Homo sapiens: one gene and its partner. The protein of the gene in region 1 interacts with the protein of each later gene in a biochemical or structural test. Each region holds a gene or a part of one and is shown in the gene's direction. Other genes may lie near its edges. The genes, in order: CNTD1 and NOTCH3.

What was found.
Region 2: the proteins of CNTD1 (region 1) and NOTCH3 form a complex in vitro, tested with the Homo sapiens proteins (one study listed by BioGRID).

Annotation. Positions count from the first base shown.
Region 1 is NC_000017.11:42,805,253-42,809,064, forward strand, and holds part of CNTD1 (cyclin N-terminal domain-containing protein 1), read left to right. Parts: intron 1-469; coding exon 470-632; intron 633-1,421; coding exon 1,422-1,566; intron 1,567-2,515; coding exon 2,516-2,612; coding exon of another isoform or gene 2,613-2,640; intron 2,641-3,812. UniProt on the Homo sapiens protein: Plays a role in the different steps of crossover formation during meiotic recombination. Participates in the crossover differentiation step of crossover-specific recombination intermediates through its interaction with PRR19.
Region 2 is NC_000019.10:15,190,825-15,194,636, reverse strand, and holds part of NOTCH3 (neurogenic locus notch homolog protein 3 precursor), read left to right. Parts: intron 1-2,117; coding exon 2,118-2,260; intron 2,261-2,338; coding exon 2,339-2,677; intron 2,678-2,769; coding exon 2,770-2,892; intron 2,893-2,979; coding exon 2,980-3,213; intron 3,214-3,812. UniProt on the Homo sapiens protein: Functions as a receptor for membrane-bound ligands Jagged1, Jagged2 and Delta1 to regulate cell-fate determination.

The DNA of each region.
Region 1 (3,812 bases):
ACAACAGTACAAATATTGTCTGTGCTCACAAGGAACCTATTATGTAATGGGAAAAGACACATACAAATAGTGTGGAAAAAAAAGCTCTGATTAATGTAAATACAGAGGGCTATAAATGTACCTCATCAGCCTTGGAGAGTCAAGGAAGTGTATTTAGAGAAAATGACTTCTTGAAATGGGGTGGGTGGGAGATGGGAGGATCCTAAGAGAAGAGGGAGAGGAATTAGGGAGGAAAGGAAGGGAGATCCAGGTATAGAAAACAGCCTGTGTAGTGGCTTGGAGAGGGACAGCATGGTGGGTTTGGGAACTGTAAGCAATTTGGAATGACAAGCAGAGTGTGAGGGGGAATTACCAAGAGACAAGACTGAAGATGAAGGAATAGGCTGGATTATGAAGGGCTTTGTGCACTCTGTCAAGACGTATGAACTTTATCCTAACATTCTTCTTTCCCTCTCTTTTCTTTGCTCAGATAATCAGCAACATTACAGTCTTGAATTTCCTCCAGGCTCTAGGCTATCTACACACTAAAGAAGAACTGCTGGAATCAGAGCTTGATGTTTTGAAGTCCTTGAACTTCCGAATTAATCTGCCCACTCCCCTGGCATATGTGGAGACGCTCCTAGAGGTTTTAGGTATCTTACTGTGTTAGGGAATATGGGTTGGAGACTTCCATAGAAGGCAATACAAAATGTGCATGGGGGGGCATGGCTCATGCCTGTAATCCCAGCACTTTGGGAGGCTGAGGTAGGTGGATCACTTGAGGCCAGGAGTTCAAGACCAGCCTGGGCAACATAGTGAGACCCCATCTCTACTAAAAATACAAAAATTAGCTGGGTGTGGTGGTGGGCACCTGTAATCCCAGCTACTTGGAAGGCTGAGGCACAAGAATTGCTTGAACCTGGAAGGTGTAGGTTGCAGTGAGCCGAGATCATGCCACTGCACTCCAGCCTGAGCAACAGAGCGGACTCCTTCTCAAAAAAAAAAAAAAATGTGCACAGGGGTTTGGGAACAGTGGGCAGAACCTGCCAATGAGGAACAGTAGGAAGCTTGATGGTGTCTCTGGATGACTGAAACAGGTGTTCCCTCCGGCACTTGTCAGGGAAAGCTCAGAGGTCTTAGCAACTGGCTTCTGTTTGGACTCACTAGGCACTCTTATTGCAGGATCAAAGAGGTGACTTTATAGAGAGGCATAAGATAAGAGAGGGACAACTACATGCTAATTGTATGTATACTACAGATGGAGGTTTCTCTACCTCTACCTTTGTCCTTTAAAACTGATCTCCAGCTAAACAGGTTTCTTGTAGTAGAACATAGCAACCAGGAAGCACATTAGCACCTCAACAGCTTTATGTCACAACTGTGGTTATGATCAGAGAAGACATGATCATAAATTCTCCCTATCATTCCCATACTCCATCTAGGATACAATGGCTGTTTGGTTCCAGCCATGAGGCTGCATGCAACCTGCCTGACACTGCTCGACCTGGTCTATCTTCTGCATGAACCCATATATGAGAGCCTGTTGAGGGCTTCAATTGAGAACTCCACTCCCAGTCAGCTGCAAGGGTAAGACAACTCCTATAGGGTAGGCTCCTTCCAGGAACAGGGAAGGGGAGACAGACCACAAGAACTTGGGGAATGGAATTAGCCTAGCATGGCATCCAGTCCCAGATAACCTACTCAGGCTACCTGGTTCTCATTAGTTCCAATATGTTGTTTGGATGCAGGTGACTGAGCCTGGTCAGGAAAACCCTAAAGGCTTTTACTTTTAAATTTAAATTACTTTAATTAATATATTTCCTTTCCTAGTTTTTCCTTTATAGCTGCATAAAACTCAAGGTTACTGGACTGCTTTGGTCAGTCATTTAGAAAAAAAAACAGTCGCCGGCGCGGTGGCTCATGCCTGTAATACCAGCACTTCAGGAGGCTGAGGCGGGCAGATCACGAGGTCAGGAGATCGAGACCATCCTGGCTAACAGCGTGAAACCACGTTTCCACTAAAAATACAAAAAATTAGCCGGGCGTGGTGGCGGGCACCTGTAGTCCCAGCTACTTGGGAGGCTGAGGCAGGAGAATGGCGTGAACCCAGGAGGCGGAGCTTGCAGTGAGCTGAGATGGCGCCACTGCACTCCAGCCTGGGCAACAGAGAGAGACTCCGTCTCAGAAAAAGAAAAAAGAAAAAAAAAACAGTCACAAGGTTGCAACTTGGACAAGAGTGTTTGATTACTGTAAAGTCAGACTGGTTAAAAGCCTCACAGTTACAATTGTTAGGGAAACAGATAGAACTAAAAAAGGCCTATAAACCATTCAAGACATAAGGCTCATGTTAATCCCAGTTAAGTTGGGGGAGAATGGGAGAGCAGGTCAATGAGCTATTACTTGACCATTTCCTTCCATGTCTAAAAAATCCAAGATGATCGACACAAATAATTCATAGTTGAAGTTCCATGACCCTATGATTTGGAAGATCAAGTTCCATTCTAGCTTTAAAATTAATGTGGTTTTAATCACTCAGGGAAAAGTTTACTTCAGTGAAGGAAGACTTCATGCTGTTGGCAGTAGGAATCATTGCAGCAAGTGCTTTCATCCAAAACCATGAGTGTTGGAGCCAGGTATGCACCACTGAGCAGGACCAGCATGGTGAGAATTCATTTAACAGAAAGCATTTCACCCATCAGTTAAAGGAAAACAGAGGACAACCTACAGAAGTGCCAAGACCCAGGATTAGGATGGGTGTGCAAGATTTGAGAGGGAAAAATCTAGGATAGGGCTGAAATGTTTCCTTGTTTTCCTTTTATAAAACTGGAAATGGAGGCCCAAGTTCGGCTTGTTCATTTCCCTTTATAACGATAACCTGCTATTATGTTAAACTCCAGGCTGGGCACGGTGGCTCATGCCTGTAATCCCAGGATTTTGGGAGGCCAAGGCAGGAGAACTGTTTGAGCCCAGGAGTTCAAGACCAGCCTGGTCAACACAGCAAGACCTTGTCTCTACAAAAATTAAAAATTAGTCATGGCTGGGCGCAGTGGCTCACACCTGTAATCCCAGCACTTTAGGAGGCCGAGGTGGGTGGACTGCCTGAGCTCAGGAGTTGGAGACCAGCCTGGGCAACATGGAAAAGACCTGTCTCTACCAAAAATTTTAAAAAATTAGCTGGGTGTGGTGGCACATGCCTGTGGTCCCAGCTACCCAGGAGGCCAAGGTAGAAGGATCCCTTGAGCCTGGGAGGTAGAGGTTGCAGTGAGCCAAGATTTCACCACTGTACTCCAACCTGGGAGACAGAGTGAGACCCCATCTCATTAAAAAAAAAAAAAAAAAAAAAAAATTAGCCGGGCATGGTGGTGCATGTCTGCAGTCCCACAACTATGTGGACTACTTGGCTGAGATGGGAGGATCACTTGAGCCCAGGAGTTGGAGGCTGCAGTGAGCCATGATTGCGCCACTGTACTCTAGCCTGGGCGACAGAGTGAAACCCTGTCTCAAACAAACAAACAAAACAACAACAACAACAAAGGCCAGGCAGGGTTGCTCACGCCTGTAACTCCAGCATTTTGGGAGGCCAAGGCAGGAGGATTGCTTGAGCCCAGGAGTTGGAGACAAGCCTGGGCAACACAGTGAGACCTCATTTCTACAAAAAATAAACAAAAGTAGCTGGACATAGTGGCTTGCGCCTGTAGTCCCAGCTACTCCAGAGGCTGAAGTGGGAGGATCACTTAAGCCCAGGAGGTGGAGGCTGCAGTGAGCCAAAAATCACACCACTGCATTGCAGCCTGGCAGCCTGGGCAACAGAGTGAGACCCTGTTTCAAAACAA
Region 2 (3,812 bases), on another chromosome or scaffold:
TGGAATGCCGTTCCCCAGAAAGCCCCATGGCCCCCTCCTTACCTTCATATGTCTGTGAAAATAGAATTCCACCTCCTTGACCCCATCATTCTATCCCCCTTAACCCTGTGGTTTAGCTTCCTACGGCTGCTCTAACAAATTACCATAAACTGGGTAGCTTGAACAATAGTAATTTATTCTCTTGAAGTTCTGGAGGTTGGAAGTCTGAAATCAAGATATCGGCAGGGCTGAGCCTCTCCATGGGGACCCAGGGGAGAACTGACTCTTGCAGCTTCTGGTGGCTCCAGACGTTTCTCAGCTAGTGGCTGTCTCACTCCAGTCCCTGTCTCTGTCTTCTTCTCTTCCTTCTCCCACCCAAATCTCCTTTTGGCTGCCTCTCTCTTTTTTTGAGACAGAGTCTTGCTCTGTCACCCAGGCTGGAGTGCAGTGGTGCAATCTTAGTTCACTGCAGCCTTCAACTCCCAGGCTGAAGCGATCCTCCCACCTCAGCCTCCCAAGAAGCTGGGACTACAGGTGTGAGCCACCACGGCCAGCTAATCTTTTATTTTTATTTTTTAGGTGGAGTCTCTCTCTGTCACCCAGGCTGGAGTGCAGTGGCACGATCTCGGCTTACTGCAACCTCCGCCTCCCAGGTTCAAGCAATTCTTCTGTCTCAGCCTCCTGAGTAGCGGGGACTACACGAGTGCACCACCACGCCCAGCTAATTTTTGTATTTTTAGTAGCGACGAGGTTTCACCATATTGGCCAGGCTGGTCTTGAACTCCTGACCTCGTGATCCGCCCACCTCAGTCTCCCAGAGTGCTGGGATTACAGGCATGAGCCACTGCGCCTGGCCTGTTTGTTTTTTTTGTTTTTTGTTTTTTTTTGAGATGGAGTCTCCCTCTGTCAACCAGGCTGGAGTGCAGTGGTGCAATTTCGGCTCACTGCAACCTCCGCCTCCTGGGTTCAAGCGATTCTCCTGCCTCAGCCTCCAGAGTAGCTGGGATTACAGGCTCCTGCCACCATGCCCGGTTATAATTTTTAATTTTTTTTTGTGGAAAAAAAGTCTCCCTATGTTGCTCAAGCTGATCTTGAACTTCTGGCTTGAAGTGATTATCCTGTCTTGACCTCCCAAAGTGTTGGGATTACAGTTGTGAGCCGTTCTCTTGTATGAACACTTGTCACTGAATTTAGGGCCCAGGTGGATAATTCAGAATAATCTCATCTTGACATCTCTCATTTAATTACATCTGCATAGCCAGGCCTGGTGGCGTGTGCCTGTACTCCCAGCTACGCAGGAGGCTGAGACAAAGAATTGCTTGAACCCCGGGAGGTGGAGGTTGCAGTGAGCCAAGATCGCGCCACTGCACTGCAGCCTGGGTGACAGAGCAAGACTCCGTCTCTTAAAAAAAAAAAATTACATCTGCAAAGAGCCATTTAAAAAAAAAGTAAGGTCCTAGTCACAGGTTCTGGGACATGGATGTCATCTTTTCAGGGGCTGTGACCCAACTGACTACATCCTTCATGGTTCTGATGGCTTTCACCGCCCCCTGCCAGCATGTTGTATATTAATTTGTTATTCGTATATGTTCTCCTTGCCTGGACCTGGCTGCAAGGATCCAGAGGGATAGGGACCCCTTTCATTGTGTTTGTTGCTGTATTTGTATTGCTCAGAACGTAGTAGGTACTCAGTAAATATTCGTTGCATGAATGAATGTGTGTTTTGTTTTGTTTTGTTTCTTTGAGACCGAGTCTTACTCTGTCACCCAGGCTGCAGTGCAGTGGCGCGATCTTGGCTCACTGCAACCTCCACCTCCCGAGTTCAAGCAATTCTCCTGCCTCAGCCTCTTGAGTAGCTGGGACTACAGGCACGCACCACTATGCCCAGCAAAGTTTCGTACTTTTAGTAGAGACGGGGTTACACCATGTTGGCTAGGCTGGTCTTGAACTCCTGACCCCAAGTGATCTGCCCGCCGCAGCCTCCCAAAGTTCTGGGATTACAGGCGTGAGCCACTGCTCCCAGCAAATGTGTGTTTGCTGCTCTGTTTCCCTGCGTGTTTCTTGCCTGTCTTGTGTGTATCTTTGTGTCTGGGGCCATCCTGCCCTGTGCTGCCCAACCAAGCCATCTCTGCCCACAGGTGCCCGCCTGGCTGGGTGGGTGAGCGGTGTCAGCTGGAGGACCCCTGTCACTCAGGCCCCTGTGCTGGCCGTGGTGTCTGCCAGAGTTCAGTGGTGGCTGGCACCGCCCGATTCTCATGCCGGTGCCCCCGTGGCTTCCGAGGTGAGAGGGGAAGAGTCTGGAGGGGAGGTAGTCGGGGGTGTGGTCAGTCCTAAACTCACCCTGTCCTGGTCCCTCCAGGCCCTGACTGCTCCCTGCCAGATCCCTGCCTCAGCAGCCCTTGTGCCCACGGTGCCCGCTGCTCAGTGGGGCCCGATGGACGCTTCCTCTGCTCCTGCCCACCTGGCTACCAGGGCCGCAGCTGCCGAAGCGACGTGGATGAGTGCCGGGTGGGTGAGCCCTGCCGCCATGGTGGCACCTGCCTCAACACACCTGGCTCCTTCCGCTGCCAGTGTCCAGCTGGCTACACAGGGCCACTATGTGAGAACCCCGCGGTGCCCTGTGCACCCTCACCATGCCGTAACGGGGGCACCTGCAGGCAGAGTGGCGACCTCACTTACGACTGTGCCTGTCTTCCTGGTGAGTGAGCCCTACTCAGGAGAGTCAGAGGGGTGGGCGTGGGGACAGCAGGCCAGCCCGGCGGTGACCATCCTTGCCCCCTTCCCTGCTAGGGTTTGAGGGTCAGAATTGTGAAGTGAACGTGGACGACTGTCCAGGACACCGATGTCTCAATGGGGGGACATGCGTGGATGGCGTCAACACCTATAACTGCCAGTGCCCTCCTGAGTGGACAGGTGGGCACTGCGGCCAGAGGGAGCGGGGAGGCAGGCCTCGGGTGGACATGCGCCAGGTGGCTGGACTGCTGCATCTGTGTGCCACAGGCCAGTTCTGCACGGAGGACGTGGATGAGTGTCAGCTGCAGCCCAACGCCTGCCACAATGGGGGTACCTGCTTCAACACGCTGGGTGGCCACAGCTGCGTGTGTGTCAATGGCTGGACAGGCGAGAGCTGCAGTCAGAATATCGATGACTGTGCCACAGCCGTGTGCTTCCATGGGGCCACCTGCCATGACCGCGTGGCTTCTTTCTACTGTGCCTGCCCCATGGGCAAGACTGGTGAGTGGCCGTTTTCTCTGCAGGGAGCCATGGATGGTTTTTAGTGAGGGCAAATAAGAAGTCTGACTTGAGTGTTAGAAAGATTATGCTAGGCTGGGCACAGTGGCTCATGCCTGTAATCATAGCACTTTGGGAGGCCCAGGCGGGCGGATCACTGGGGTCAGGAGTTTGAGACCAGCCTGGTCAATATGGTGAAACCCCATCTCTACTAAAAACACAAAAATTAGCTGCGCGTGGTGGTGCACACCTGTAATCCAAGTCTCTCAGGAGGCTAAGGCACGAGAGTAGCTTGAACCCAGGAGGTGGAGATTGCAGTGAGCCAAGATTGCACCACTGCACTCTAGCCTGGGTGACAGAGTGAGACTCCTTCTCAAATTTAAAAAATAAAAAAAAGATTATGCTAGGCCGGGCACAGTGGCTCATGCCTGTAATCCCAGCACTTTGGGAGGCCAAGATGGGAGGATCGCTTGGGCCCAGGACTTTGAGACCAGCCTGGACAACATAGTGAGTTTTTGTCATCTCTACAAAAACTTGGTAGGCTGGGTGTGGTGGCTCACGCCTGTAACCCCAACACATTGGGAGGCCCAGGCGGGTAGATT